Linked DNA regions of Homo sapiens: region 1 is linked to region 2. Evidence: fine-mapped expression QTL. Tissue or cell type: whole blood. Region 2 holds a variant in brackets; the other region holds the start of a gene. All regions are shown on one strand. Distances are between the middles of the regions.

Region 1 (7,720 bases), 32 kb after region 2:
CTCTAACTTTGATTCACTTCCTCTCTCAACGGGATGGTGATTTACTTTAAGCAACCTCGTCGATAAGGTGCTGGTCAGTGGGATCAGATCAGGGAAGGAAGACAAAGTAAGGTTGGAGGATACAGCTTCCCCAGGACCAAGGCCAGAGCTAGACTGAGGCAGGCTCTGCTCCTAGTGACATCTCTGATCTCCAAGCACCAAATCATAAATGTTTCCAGGCTGTGTGGGGGTGTTGGCCCAAAGTCAAGATATGGCACAACTGAAAGAAGGTACCGAGCACAGTGGCTCACATCTGTAATCCCAACATTTGGGGATGCTAAGGTGAGAGGATCACTTGAGCCCAGGAGTTCAAGACCAGCCTGGGCAACATGACAAGACCCCTGTTTCTACAAAAAAAAAGAATTTAAAAATTAGCCAGGCATGGGGGTGCGTATCTATAGTCCCAGCTACTTGGGAGGCCGAGGTCGGAGGATTTCTTGAGCCTGGGAGTTCAAGGCTGCAGTGAGCCATGATCATACCACTGCACTCGAGCCTGGATAACACAGGGAGACCCTGTCTCAAAAAAAAAAAAAAAACAAAAAAAAAAAAACCTTTTTTAAAAAATAAAAAAGACGAAGGATTATGGTGTAGGGAGAATTTATCCTGATAATCCCAGGATCCCCAGTGGCAAAATCTGGGGATTTCACCAGGAAGGAGGAGGATCCTAATTCTGAGTGAACAGAGGCATCAAATCCCTGCCCCCACCCTCCGAAATAAGACACAGAGTCCCCCACAGATCAGAGATTCTGCTGATCAGGAGCCAGGACACCCCCTATGGCTTTCTTTCATCTGACCCTGAGTCCTCAAGCAGCTGTCTCTGAGGACCTCAGTTTCCTGCCTATAAAATGGGGCTCGCTTTATGGTTTTCCCTGCATCAGAGCCTCAAGGGCTGGCAAACTCAAAGGGAAAGGGGCATGTGAGCGTAAGAGGAGGGGATGAGAGAGGGTGCCGAAAACAAGCCAGAAAGTCCAAGATGGGCAGATCACCTGAAGTCAGGAGTTTGAGACCAGCCTGGCCAACATGGTGAAACCCCATCTCTACTAATAATACAAAAATTAGCCGGGCATGGTGGCACACACCTGTAATTCCAGCTACTTGGGAGGCTGAGACACGAGAATCGCTTGAACCCAGGGTGGGGAGGTTGCAGTGAGCCAATATCGTGCCCCTGCACTCCAGCTGGGCAACGGAGTGAAACTGTGTCTCAAAAAATAAAATACAAATAAAAATAAATAAACAGTGCTTTCTGTGACCCCAGTGAATTTCCATGACCCTTTTGGTCCTACCTTGATATGAGGGAACATGCTCAGAGAGGTGAAGGGATTTGCCCAAGGTCACACAGCAGAGGGGCTGAGCCTGGAAGAACTTTCCATCCAGCACAATCAAGGAAGCCTTCTCTCCACTTCCATGTTTACCATAGTCAAGAGCAACACAGCCCAGGAGGGGCCTCCAGAGGCCAAAGCCCCCTCCCCATGCTGGGCCTCGCTCCTGCCCCTCCTCGCCTGAACAGTTCTGTCATGTCCTCTTGATTCTGCTATGCAGGGCCAAAAACATGAGTGAGTCAGCAAAGAACGGGTCACCAGATCCAAGAGTCCCGGCAGCCCCCGAGGCCAGCCACAAAGCTTCAGTTCCCTCCACAGATGCCAGCTCACTCTGTGGCCTCCTCTCTCTGGGAGCCTTCCCAGATTTACCCCAACCAGTGCCCCTGTGTCTGTGCAAATATCTCCCCCAAATCTCACGTCTACTTGATGTACCCCCCAAGTGCCACCAGAATGGGGGTGTCCTCGGCATCCTGTGTCTCCCTAACACCTGCAGAAGCCAATGGATGCCAGTAAAATGGATAGGGGCTAAAGTGGGAGGAGGCCCTTTCTGCTGCAGGGGGCAGTGTGGTCTGAGCACAGACCACATCCTGGGCACATCCTAGTGCTAGGGTTCCCTAGCATCATCTGGACACTAGGATATGACGGATGCACCCCGGGTTCCCTAGGATCCCCCAGCACAGCCTGATCCAGCGTCTGGGCCCTGCTGACAAGGCTTTGAAGCTGATCCTTCCCACTCCCACTGACTCTGATTTCTCTTCTATCGCTGTCTGTGTTTCCCACTGAGTAGAGACAGCTGCTCAGCTGTGTCCCTAAGGCCAACCATCAGGGTAATGAATAAATGAATGGGCACAAGCCCTTGTACAGAACTTGCAGCACATGACCACCCAACTAGAGCACATCCTCAAAATCTGGGCCACAGATGGGGAAACGGGAGCCCAGACAGGCGGAGGAGTTAGGTGAGACTCACACATCAGAATGACAGCCTGGGTTCCAGCAATAAAGATGGTGAGCATGGCTGCCAAACACGGCATCCAGCCAAGGACTTCCCCTTGGACCAGGACACAGAAGACAAGGGAGGAGCAGAGCCCTAGCAGGATACTAAATGGGTCTATGTGACTTTAGGGACCCTCTGCTTTTGGACTAGCCTGGAACCCAGGTTCAGTCCTGCTGACCTGGCACTGGAAGGGAGGCAGGGTGCTGGCACCCACGAGCAAGCCACAGCCAAGCAGGTAAGAATTAGTCTCCTGCTGAGTTCTCATCACCCCTCAGGCCTGGGGACAGGGGGCTGGCCTCCATGGGGTGAGGAGGCAAAGTCTAGGGAAGGGAGCAGGTCCCCGTGAGGATAGAATTTACCCACCAGCCATGGACCTGATCCAGATGCAGGCACTGCGGCCTCGGTGGTAGGGAACTGGCTTCTTGGGGACAGAAGTACTGTCACCACTGGCTGAAGGCAAGGGACTGGCCCCATGAGGTGAGGGATGCCGCAGTAGCCAGCTCCCAAACAGGGTACTTGGCCCGCAGGGCGGTGCTGCAGCCTCGGGAGTAGCTGACCCCCAGAGAAACGGGCGTTCCCACCCGGCAAGAGGCCGGTCCCGGGAACAGGCGAGGTCCGGCGCCCACGCATCCCCCTCCCCCGATGGCCCCGCGTGGGGATAAGCCAACCCTTACCCAGTCTCGCGGATGGCGTTGGTGAGGTTGGCCCAGGCCACGGCGTCAGGGTGGCGTCCGTCCACCATAAGCAGCTGGCCCGCCGAGACGTCCAGGAGCACCGAGCGGCTGCGGGAGGCTGGAGGGACCTGCCCATCGCGCGCCCAGCGGCCCCCCGGCGCTGGGATCGCCCCCGCCAGGCCGCTCAGGAACGGCCCGACCAGCAGGGCCAGCACCAGGGCCAGCGCCAGCGCCCGCGTCAGCGCCCGGGCCAGGTGGCTGCCGGGGTAGCAGTACATCTGGCCCACCATGACCGCACAATGCTGCGCCCCGCAGCCCGGGTCACGTGACTGCGCTCTGCCATGGGCGGGGCCGAGGGCGGGCGGGGCCGGGCTTGGGCTGAGCCTTTCCGGGATGGGAGGGGCTGGCGCGAGGGGAGGCCTACGGGGCGGGACCCACCTTAAAGAGCCCGGCCGCCCCTTCCACCTACGCAAACCCGGTTTAGCACACTTCCCCAAGTTTTTTTTTTTTTTTTTTTTTGAGACAAGACAAAACCTCCATATGTCGCCCAGACTGGAGTGCAGTGACGCGATCTCGGCTCATTGCCACCTCCGCCTCCCGGGTTCAAGCGATTCTCCTGCCTCATCCTCCTGAGTAGGTGGGATTACAGGCGCGCACCACCACGCCCAGCTGATTTATGTAATTTCAGTACAGACGGGGTTTCGCCATGTTGGCCAGGCTGGTCTTGAACTCCTGACCTCAGGTGATCCGCCTGCCTCAGCCTCCCAAAGTGCTGGGATTACAGGGGTGAGCCACCGCGCCCGGCCAGATTTATTTAATGGTATTTGCCATTTATTTAATACAGTTATCTAATGCAGTCTTTATTCCAACTTTTCCCATTGTCCCTCAAATACCCTTTTTACATGTGTGTGGGAAAAAGCTGTCTAACTACTACTCAAAACCTAGATGCCGTCGGGCGCGGTGGCTCACGCCTGTAATCCCAACACTCCAGGAGGCCAGGGCGGGCGAGTTCAGGAGTTCAAGACCAGCCTGGGCAACATGGTGAAACCCCCGTCTCTACTAAAAATACAAAAAAGTAGCCGGACGCAGTGAGGCGCGCCTATAGTCCCAGCTACTCGGGAGACTGAGGTAGGAAAATCACCTGAGCCCGGAAGGTCGAGGCTGCAGAGAGTCGAGATTGCACCACTGCACTCCAGCCTGAGCAACCAGAATGAGACCTTGTCTCAAAAGAAAAAAAAAAAAAAAAAAACCTAGATGCAATAAAAGATTAATGCATTTGACTGTATAAATTTTTTAACTTTTTCATGTCAAAAAACTCAATAAGCAAAGTCAAAAGACATCTGACAGACCAGGAGAAACTATTTGCAACATATATCATATATATACATTACATATATATATGTATATATATCTCAACATATATCATATAATATATCAGGAACTCTTAAAATTTGAGAGGGAAGGCCAGGTGAGTGGTTCATGCCTGTAATCACAGCACTTTGGGTGGCCAAGGTGGGAGGAATGCTTGAGCCCAGGAGTTTGAGACCAGCCTAGGAAACCTGGCAAGACTCTGTCTCTATAAAATATAAAAATTAGCTGAGCTTGGTGGTGCACACCTGTAGTCCTGTTGTGGGAAACTGAGGAACGGAGAGACCAATATGAGAGAACAGGAGGATGTTTATTTCAACGTACGCACTGGCTCAGTGGATTCACATCCAAAAAGCTGAGCCTAGAACAAAGATATTGTGGGGTTTTTATAAGCAAGCTTAGAAAGGTAAAACAAAAGTAGTTAATCATATAGTGCATAACTTGTGGCCTTGCATAGCTGGTGGCCTTGTAGCTGCATCAAAAGTAAAACAAGAACTGGCTAAATAGAGAGGTTTGTAAAACATAGTCATGCTTAAGAGACCAAGGAAAGGAATAGCAATAAAATAATTTGTCTTTCTCTCTTTTTTTTCCTTCAACCTTGCTCTGGAGGCGGGCGGTGGGGTGGAGGGCGGGGTCTGGAGCCCAGTCCTCTGGCCTTGGCTTTTCGGACAGCGTTATCTTATAACTGTCCTTGAAGTGAGCTGCTAAGCAGAGGAAAACTTGTTCTTCTTCTTTTTTAACCCTTGCCTTGCCACATTCTGGGCCTTAGCTCTTACTTCTCTTGGAGTGAATATATGTAGTACTTATTATTATTATTATTTTAATTTCTGCCTCAGTCCCAGCTACTGGGAGGCCGAGGGGGGAGGATTGCTTGAGCCTAGGAAGTCGAGGCTACAGTGAGTTGCACTACAGCCTGGGCAACAGAGCAAGAAGTTGTCAAAAAGGAAAGAGAGAGAGAGAGAGAGAAAGAGAGAGAAAAGGAAGGAAGGAAGGGAGGGAGGGAGGGAAAGGGAAGGAAGGGAAGGAAGAAAGGAAGGAAGGAAGGAAGGAAGGAAGGAAGGAAGGAAGAAAGAAAGAAAGAAAGAAAGAAAGAAAGAAAGAAAGAAAGAAAGAAAAGGTTTGAGAAGGAAAATGTGAAAACCAGACAGAAAACATGGGCAAAAAGCATCAGCAAATAATTCATGAACAAAGATGTAGAAGTGACCATTATATTTATGAAAAATGCTTGCTTCATTCACTATAGGAGAAATGCAAATTAAAGCTACACTGAAAATAAACATTCAGAGAAATATATGGTGAGAGAGCGTATACCCTGAATGGTACATTCAGGGTAACATGAAGCGATGCTCCTAAGTGCCCAACCTCAATCTTCGGGTGAAAACAAACTCTATACTTAACCATTCAAAAAAGAAGAGGCCAGGTGCAGTGGCTCATGTCTGTAATCCCAGCACTTTGGGAAGCCGAGGCAGGCAGATCACGTGAGGTCAGGGGTTCAAGACCAGCCTGACCAACATTGTGAAACCCCATCTCTACTAAAAATACAAAATAATTAGCCGGGTGGTGGCATGTGCCTGTGGTCCCAGCTGCTGGGGAGGCTGAGGCAGGAAATTCGCTTGAACCTGGGAGGTGGAGGTTGCAGTGAACCGAGATCATGCCACTGCATTCCAGCCTGGGCGACAGAGTGAGACTCTGTCCAGAAGAAGGAGAAGGAGAAGAAGTAAGAAATATACAGTGAAAATAGAGTGCATGTAAAGACTGCTGAAATAAGGTCTGTAATTTAGTTTTTTGATTTTTGTTTTCTTGGGTTTGAGACAGGGTCTCACTTTGTCGTCCAGGCTGGGATGCAGTGGTGCAATCATAGCTCACTGTAGCCTCAATCTTTCAGGCTCAAGTGATTCTCTCACCTAAGTCTCCTAGGTAGCTGGGCTACAGGCATGCACCACCACACCTGGTTAATTTTTTTGAGTTTTTGAAGAGATGGAGTCTTACTTTGTTGCTTGACTGGTCTCAAACTCCTGGGCTCAAGCGATCCTCCCACCATGGCCTCCCAAAGTGCTGGGATTTGTAATTTAAAGTACCATATCAGGCCGGGTTCGGGGGCTCATGCCTGTAATCCCTGCACTTTGGGAGGCCATGGTGGGAGGATCGCTTGAGCTCAGGAGTTCAAGAGCAGCCTGAGCAAGATGGTGAAACCCCATCTCTACTAAAAATCCAAAAAAAATTTATCTGGGCATGGTGGCACACGCCTGTAATCTCAGCTACTCGGGAGGCTGAGGCACGAGAATTGCTTGAACCTGGGAGGCGGAGGTTGCAGTGAGCTGAGATTGTATCACTGCACTCCAGCCTAGGTAACAGAGTGAGACCCTGTCTCAAAAAATTTTTAAAAGTTAAAAAAAAAGTTCCATATCAAAGTCAATTTCCTGATTTTGATATTTATACTCTGGTTACATAAGTTGTTATCACTGGGAGAAACTAGATAAAGAGTACATGTTTTCAAAAACAAAAACTTTAGGGCCGGACACAGTGGCTCACGCCTGTAATCCCAGCACTTTGGGAGGCCGAGGCGGGTGGATCATGAGGTCAGGAGTTCAAGACCAGCCTGGCCAAGATGGTGAAACCCCGTCTCTACTAAAAATACAAAAAAAAATTACAGCATGCCTGTAATCCCAGCTACTCGGGAGGCTGAGGTAGGAGAATCGCTTGAACCCCGGGGGCGGAGGTTGCAGTGAGCTGAGATCGCACCACTGCACTCCAGCCTGGGTGACAGAGCAAGACTCCCTCTCAAAAAAAAAAACAAAAAAAAAAACTTTAAATAAACTACACTGAGATATCATTTCTTTCTATGAGATTAAAAAAAAAAAGTTTAGAAGCTTGACAACATACCCTGTTGGTGAGCCTGGAGAAACAGGCACATGCACGTTGCTAGTGGGTATGCAAAAGACAGGAAGAGTAATGTCTAACAAAACACCAAGGGCATCTACCTCTGACCCAGCAATCCCACCTCTAAGTATTTATCCATAAGGTTATTTATTGCAGCATTGTTTGTAATTTTAAACTGTTGGAAACACTTTCAAGCCCATACATAGAAGCTTCATTAAATAAACCACACAACAGCTGGGAAATGGAATACTATGCAGCTATAAAAAAGAATGAGGCCGGGTGCAGTGGCTCACGCCTGTAATCACAGCACTTTGGGAGGCCGAGGCGGGTGGATTACAAGGTCAGGAGTTCAAGATCAGCCTGGCCAATATGAGGAAACCCCATTTCTACTAAAAATACAAAAATTAGCCAGGCATCGTGGCAGGCGCCTGTAGTCCCAGCTACTC
Region 2 (7,720 bases):
CTCAGGCGCTAAGTGGCTGTCCACTTGGTATGCCACTGGGGATCCCACTCACCCCAAGTTTCCTTCACAGTTCTGTCTTCCACCTCTGCCTAGAATTTTCCATTAATAGAAGATAATACAATGCCGTGTAGAAATAGAAAAGCAAAAGCCACACATAATGGAAAAGTAAATAGAAAAGTAAGCCTGATAACCATAGCAGCAGAAAACAATAAGTGAATATTTAAAATGTTGCTTCTGAGTTTCCTGGCAGCCAGGGTAAAAAAAGGAAAACATGGGGCTCAGAGTTTGATTCATTCAGAGGTGAGTCTGTAACTAGGCTGGACTCTTTCTGGGTTCCGTCTAGGGCAGGGATGGCAAAAAAGAGAGAAAAAAATAGTACCATTTATGCTTCTGTACCTGCTGCACACTTGGCTAATCAACCATGGAACTCTTGCTCAGATGATGCCTCAGAATCCTTCTCAACACAGTGCTCACGCAACCACACTCATTCTATCAGTGTTAGCACTCATGATGAAACCCAGGCCCTGGCTCAGGCTTGGAAGGGCCAATTCAGGCCGATGACGGGACGTTTGGTTCAGGACCTGCGGCTGCAGCCAGGGCTGAGAGCTGATTGGCTCAGTATTCCCAGGTCCTGCCAATGGCCTGTCAGCTCCTGTGCACCCTGGGAAACTCAGGCCACGCCCCTGTCACGCCCCTTCTCTGGCAGATGATGAGAAGATCCTGGTGGAGCCCGCCTGCGGGGCAGCCCTGGCCGCTGTCTATAGCCACGTGATCCAGAAGCTCCAACTGGAGGGGAATCTCCGAACCCCGCTGCCATCCCTCGTGGTCATCGTCTGCGGGGGCAGCAACATCAGCCTGGCCCAGCTGCGGGCGCTCAAGGAACAGCTGGGCATGACAAATAGGTTGCCCAAGTGAGGACGGACCCCTTACCGATCTGTGCTCTCCTAGCCCAAGAGACCCCTGGAGGGGCTGGAGTTTTATCCAGCGCCTCGTCGTATGTTTGGCTGAGCACCTGTGGCCTGGGTGCAGGTTAACTTCTTGTTATCAGGAGCCCACTATGCAGAGGCCAAAGGTCGGCAGCCAGCGAGGCTATGAATTGGACCTTTTTGGTATCTGTGTGACTGCTCTGTGCCCATCCTTAGCCAACTTGCTGGCGTGACAAGTGCCCACAAGTAACACACCAGGTACCCAGAGCAGGGTGGACAGGAGAGACCTGAATCACAGCAGTGAGGAATTCCTCAAAGCTGTGACCTCGCCCCTGAACTTGTTCCCAGTGAAGGTCAACAGGGCCACCAACCAGGGTTGAGGAACCATCTCAGCCATCCTCCCAGGAAGCCCACCCCTGACCCTTACTAATTTTTCTAATGTGCAAACTTTTTCATTGAAAAATAAAATATATTTATGAAACAAAGATCCTGTGCATTTTCCCATCATCAGCTGTCTCCTTTCCTGCTTTCCTTCCACCCCAAGTCTGCTCTCAGCCCCAGCTCTCAACTGGGGCCCCAGAGTGAGGCCAGGAGCCTGACTCCAGCTAGTCTTGCATGCCAGGACAGGGGCATCCCTGTACCACAGGAAGCAGGTGGCTAAACAAGAGGGACTTGGGGTGGGACAAAGGCTGCCTCCGCTGAAGGCAGAAGCAGCTGGGGAGGCCAACTTCATTCTGATATGAAGTCCTTCCTACTAAGTCAGAATTATTTCATCACAGACCCAATGGAAGCAAAGAAGTGAGGCCCCCTCCCCTGGGCGTGTGTGAGCTGACACTGGACACCCATCTCTGGGAGAGGGAAAGGGTGGGTGGACTTGAAGTCAATGTCATGCAAACCCTCCTCAAACATGGAGCCCTCTCTTCCAACAAAAGCATATGCTGAAGCCCGTATCATAGATCAAAGAGGAATTACTGGGGCTGGCTCCAGAGCATGGAGGGAACCCCACCCTCAGGGTACTTTCTGGATGACCCCAAGTTCAAACTGAAGTTTAAGAGTCACTCAGGGCTGGGCGCAGTGGCTCACGCCTGTGGGAGGATCGCTTGAGCCCAGGAGTTCAAGACCAGGCTGGTTGGCACAGTGAGACTCTGTCTCTACAAAAAGGAAAAATAACTTGAACCCAGGAGGCAGAGGTTGCAGTGAGCCGGGATTGTGCCATTACACTCCAGTCTGGCGACAGAGTGAGACTCCGTCTCAAAAAATAAATAAATAAATAAAAAGGAAAATAAGATAAAACCACAAGTCAATTCCCAACCCCAGACCCCAACCTTGCTTTATTTTCTCCACGGGTTTACCAGCACTGACACACTGCATATTTCATTTATTTTGTTTACTATCTAGTCAATGTAAACTTCACAAGAGCAGGAATGCTTCTGTCCCTTTTGTTATAAAGTATCCCCGGGACCTCATAACAGTGCCTGGCATGTACTAGGGGTTCAATAAGTGTTTGCTAATAAAGAGATGCTGAGTGCATGAGGCCCCAAGTGGGCTGCATCACATCCCCCAGGGAAACGCTGCTCACACCATTACCCCATTTCACAGATGAGGTAATCGAGGCTCAGAGAGGAGTCCATAGCTAGCTAATAAGAGGTGGAGACAGAATTGAAACCCAGGTCTCTGACTCCAGGGCTGTGTGCTTTCCTCTCTCCAAGCACACAGCACTGGGAGAGTCTTGTCTCCAAGGCAGGCTGCATGAGATCAGACAGGGAGAGAGCCTTTTTTTTTGTATCTGTCTGTATACCACAATATGGCTTAGGAAGGTCTTGGTGGTTAACAAGGCTCCCAAATAGGACCCAGAACACAGGTGCTCAATAAACATCTGGATGGATAGATGGATGGATGGATATGAATGAATGGATGGCTGATGGATAGAAAATAGATAAATATGGATGCATGGGTGGATATTAATGAATCTGCACAGACCCGTGTGTGGATGGATGGGTGATAAATGAATAGGTAGGTGGATGGACGGGTGGGTGGGTGGATGGATGAATGGATGGATGAGTGGGTGGATGGATGGGTAGATGGGTGATAAATGGATAGGTGGACGGATGAGTGAATGGGTAGATGGGTAGATGGATGGAAATGAACAGATGGAAATGGTTGGATGGGTGGATAAATGGTTGGAAGGATGGATGGATGGGTGAGTGGGTAGATGGATGATAAATGGATAGGTAGGTGGATGGATGAGTGAATTAGTAGATGGGTAAATGGGTGGAAAATGAACAGATGGAAATAGTTGGATGGGTGGATAAATGGTTGGAAGGTTGGATGGATGGGTGAGTGGGTAGATGGATGATAAATGGATAGGAAGGTGGATGGATGAGTGAATGGGTGGATGGGTAGATGGATGGAAAAACAGATGGAAATGTTTGGATGGGTGGATAAATGGTTGGAAGGATGGATGGATGGATGGGTAAATGGGTGATAAATGGATAGGTAGGTGGATGGAGGAGTGAATGGGTGGACGGGTAGATGGATGGAAAATGAACAGATGAAAATGGTTGGATTGATGGTTGGATGGGTGATTGGATGGATGGATGGGTGGATGGGTGACAAATAGGTAGGTGGATGGGTGGATAGGTGAGTGGGTAGATGATTGGGTGGGTGGATGGATGGATGCGTTGGCAGATGGGTGGATGGATGAATGGATAGGTAGTTGGATGGGTGGGTGGATGAATGGGTGGGTAGATAAATGGGTGGGTGGATGGGTGATAGATAGATAAGAACTTCGTAAGCCATGCTGTGGTATACAGACCAATACAAAAAAGGATCCCTCCCTGTCTGATCTCATAGGTGGATGGATGAGTCAATGGCTGGATGAGTAAATGGGTGGGTGGGTAAGTGGATGGAAAATGGACAAATGAGGCCAGGTGCGGGGGCTCACATCTGTAATCCAAGCACTTTGGGAGGCCAAGACGGGCGGATCACTTGAGGCCAGGAGTTCGAGACCAGCCTGGCCAACATGGTGAAACCCTGTCTCTACTAAAAATACAAAATTAGCCAGGCATGGTGGCTCATGCCTGTAACCCCAGCTACTTGGGAAGCTAAGGCAGGAGAATCGCTTGAACCCAGGAAGCAGAGGTTGCAGTGAGCAGAGATTATGCCATTGCACTCCAGCCTGGGCAATAGAGTGAAACTCCCACTCAGAAAAAACAAAAACAAAAAAAAAAGAAGAAGAAAGAAAATGGACAGATGGAGATGGCTGAATGGTTGGATGGGTGGTTGGATGGGTGAGTGGATGGATGATAAATGGATAGGTAGATGGATGGATGGATGATGGAAGACGGATGGGTGGGTGGAAGGCTGTGCAGATGGATGATGGGTGAGTATGTTGGCAGATGAATGAATGGACAGAAGGACAGACAGAGGGCTGCACAGGAGGCTGCATGGGGGATGGCGCAGAACCCAAACCTGAGAGGAGAAAAAGCGCTGACCCCACCTTCCCTGCCACCCCAAG[A/C]AGCACAGCATGGGGCCACAGCCGCTCTTGTTTAATGGTGGCACAGCCTGCGGTCTGGTTCCTCCATCAGGGCGCTGTGGGTATGGCCCTGAGGTGAGGGGCAGGCCTGGGGTGGGGTGGGGTGGGGCCTGAGGCAGAAGCATGGGGGCTGACCCTCTGCCTGACATGGAGAGAGGACATTCAGAACCCTCCAGCCACAGATGGCCAGAAACTTTGGTTTGTGTTTGTTTTCAAGTTTCTGTCCTCAAGGAAGCTGCCCAGAAAGGGAGACGAGGGGACTGCTTCCTGAGGGAGCAGAGGGGCCAGAGCTGGGAGGAGCAATGCCAGCCGAAGACAACGCCCAGACAAAGCTCACCAGCTCCAGGGCCACCCGTGGGAATGCAGCTGGGAGAAGGGTGCTGGAACAGGCTCCTTCCACCCCATGGGAGCCCCAGAGTCTGCCCCAGGACCTTCCCAAACCCTCAGGAAGGAGAAGCACGAGGAAGGGGCCCCAGAGGTGGGAATGAGGTTGAGAGAGCAGCAGTAGGAAACAGACAGAAACAGAGAGTGGGAGATTTAGGGCAGGGCAGAAGAGACGCCACGGTGCCCACCCACCTCGGGGGAGAGAGGGGGTCAGTTCTGAGCCCCATCAGGTTCGTGACCCACTCTAGGAGGAGATGACTCAGACCCCAGATCAGAGAACGAAGCCCCCAGGAGGGGCTGGAGTTAGAAGTCCGGTGGCCTTGGGACGGGGGTGACCCTGACGAGGGTCAGCAGGGGCGAAAGCAGCAGAGCAGGGACAGAACTTCAGTCCCATGAAACCTTGACAGGCGCGAACTTCCAGAGGTCTGGCTGGCCCATGTGCAGCAGGCCGCTGAAGGGCGAGGTGCTCCACTGGAACGGGGGCACCTGGTCCCACGTGGGACCGCTGGCCGCCAGCAGGCTCAGGATCCTGGCCAGTGACATGCTGGTCACCTGGGGACAGGGCAGAGCCGCAGCTGAGCAGGGGTCCTGGCCTGCCCCAATCCAGGCACCCAGCCTCCCACCCTGACCTTGACCCCAGAGCCCAATTCTGAACTGTCACTTTTTTTTTTTTTGAGTCTCTGCTCTGTCACCCAGGTTGGAGTGCAGTGACGTGATCTTGGCTCACTGCAACCTCTGCCTCCCGGGTTCAAGCAATTCTCATGCCTCAGCCTCCTGAGTAGCTGGGATTACAGACGCCCGCCACCACGCCTAGCTAATTTTTGTATTATTAGTAGAGACGGGTTTTCACCATGTTGGCCAGGCTGGTCTCAAACTCCTGACCTCAAGTGATCTGCCCACCTTGGGCTCCCAAAGTGCTGGGATTACAGGCATGAGCCACCGTGCCCAGCCCATACTGTCACCTTTACTGTGACCCCAACCACAGCCCAATTCCGACTGTGATTCCTGCCCCGCCATCAGCTTTGCCCCAACCTGTCCCTTCCCCAAAGCTGGTGATGGTGACTTCCCCCACCCACAGCTCAGGCCCTAGGGAGGAGGCAGCACCTTCACATCGATACCCCCATGGGAGCGCTGACGCAGGGCCTGGAAGGGGTAGGAGCCATTGGCCGGGTTGAGGTCGGAGCGGGCGGAGATAGCATTCTCCCCATTGGGCTGGGGGTTGCAGGCTTTGCACAGTGACAGAGGGTCATGGAGGAAGTCATTGTACCTGGATGGGGAAAAGGAGGGAACATCAGTCATCCCAGGAAGGAGAGGCTAAGACGGGGGCCAAAATCCTCACAGGCAGCCCCGTTAACAGCTGCCAGCCTTCAACTTGATGAGCCCCTCCCACTGCACACTACCCCCGACAGTTCCTCTGCCTGGGGCCCGGACCCCTTCACCTAAGTCACTCTGCCTTCATTATTCAGCTCTCTGCTCAGGCACTCATCCTCAGGGAAGGCCTCCATGCCACCACCCCAGCCAGGTGAGGCACCCGTTTGTTCCTGGATAGCCTCTCTTGGAACACAGCCATCTTTACACATTGACACCAGTGCAAGAACTTGATGGATTTCTGCACCGCCCAAGAGACAGGACAGTGGGGCACAGGTTTTCTACCTGTTGCTCCTGGTACCAAGCATAGTGCCTAGCAGTACAGGTCACTCAACAGATGTCTAGCATCCTCCCCTTAGCTATGAGGACAGTGACAGGGCCCAAGTGGAGAGCGGCCACCGAGCTGCTGCACTGGTGTCCAACATCTGACCACCCCCTGCTGGCCCTCTGGGGCTGGCAGCAAAGTTTGAATGAGTTGGTACAAAAAGCGCACAGGAAGTTCTGTGTTCCTGCGGCCTCCCTCTCCCCAACCCACCACCCAACTGGCACCTACCTCATCAGCCTGACCATGGAGTCCATGTCTTGTACCAGTGACTGGTTCCGCCGGAAGATCTGGGCCCGGGGGCTCCCGTCATAAGAAAACCAGTCCCCATACTGGGCCACTAGGGCCTGCAGCCCACTGGCATTGAACACAGTCTCGAAGGACCTGCCGGGGACAAGGATGGTCACCCATGACCCCCACTGGCCTCACTCAGCCAAGGCTGTGGCCAGGGAGGGGAGGGGCAGTCACACCAGGACATTATTACTTACAACTACGACATTCAGGCTGGGTGCAGTGGCTCACACCTGTAATCCCAATACTTTGGGAGGCCGAGGCGGGCAGATCACCTGAGCTCAGGAGTTTGAGACTAGCCTGGCCAACATGGTGAAACCCTGTCTCCACTAAAAATACAAAAATTAGCCAGGCACGGTGGTGTGTGCCTGTAATCCCAGCTACTCGGGAGGCTGAGGCATGTACTCACTTGAACCTGGAAGGTGGAGGTTTCAGTGAGCTGAGATCGAGCCATTGCACTCCAACCTGGGCGACACAGCGAGACTCCGTCTCAAAAAAAAAAAAAAAAAATTAGCCGGCGTGGTGGCACGTGCCTGTAATCCCAGCTACTTGGGAGGCTGAGGCACAAGAATCACTTGAACCCGGGAAGCAGAGGTTGCAGCAAGCTGAGATCGCACCATTGCACTCCAGCCTGGGCGACACAGCGAGACTCCGTCTCAAAAAAAAAAAAAAAAATTAGCCGGCGTGGTGGCACGTGCCTGTAATCCCAGCTACTTGGGAGGCTGAGGCACAAGAATCGCTTGAACCCGGGAAGCAGAGGTTGCAGCAAGCTGAGATCGCACCATTGCACTCCAGCCTGGGTGACAGAGCGAGACTCTGTCTCTAAAAACAAACAAACAAACAACAACAACAACAACAAAACCAACTATGACATTCGGGATAACAATAATGTCT

Evidence for each region. PIP is the estimated chance that this variant, and not a neighbour inherited with it, causes the effect.
Region 1: PLBD2 starts here. The variant in region 2 is fine-mapped to the expression of PLBD2 in whole blood (INTERVAL, PIP above 0.99).

What each region holds. Positions count from the first base shown.
Region 1 is chr12:113,354,197-113,361,916 of GRCh38, reverse strand. PLBD2 (phospholipase B domain containing 2) reads right to left here and starts at 3,330. Exons shown (of 12, transcript NM_173542.4): 1 at 3,027-3,330. The coding sequence starts at 3,316. It overlaps LOC105369989 (a long non-coding RNA gene), which reads left to right and starts at 2,407. Exons shown (of 3, transcript XR_945346.3): 1 at 2,407-2,587. RefSeq lists an enhancer at 2,072-2,571 and silencers at 2,907-2,966, 3,017-3,516.
Region 2 is chr12:113,386,136-113,393,855 of GRCh38, reverse strand. It overlaps PLBD2 (phospholipase B domain containing 2), which reads right to left. Exons shown (of 12, transcript NM_173542.4): 10 at 6,767-6,919; 11 at 5,950-6,112; 12 at 2,227-5,397. The coding sequence ends at 5,230. SDS (serine dehydratase) reads left to right here. Exons shown (of 8, transcript NM_006843.3): 8 at 707-1,411. The coding sequence ends at 915. Among named protein-coding and RNA genes, the nearest start is that of SDS, 14 kb to the left of the region's middle. RefSeq lists an enhancer at 443-642. The variant A/C (reference allele first, on the strand shown) is at 4,444.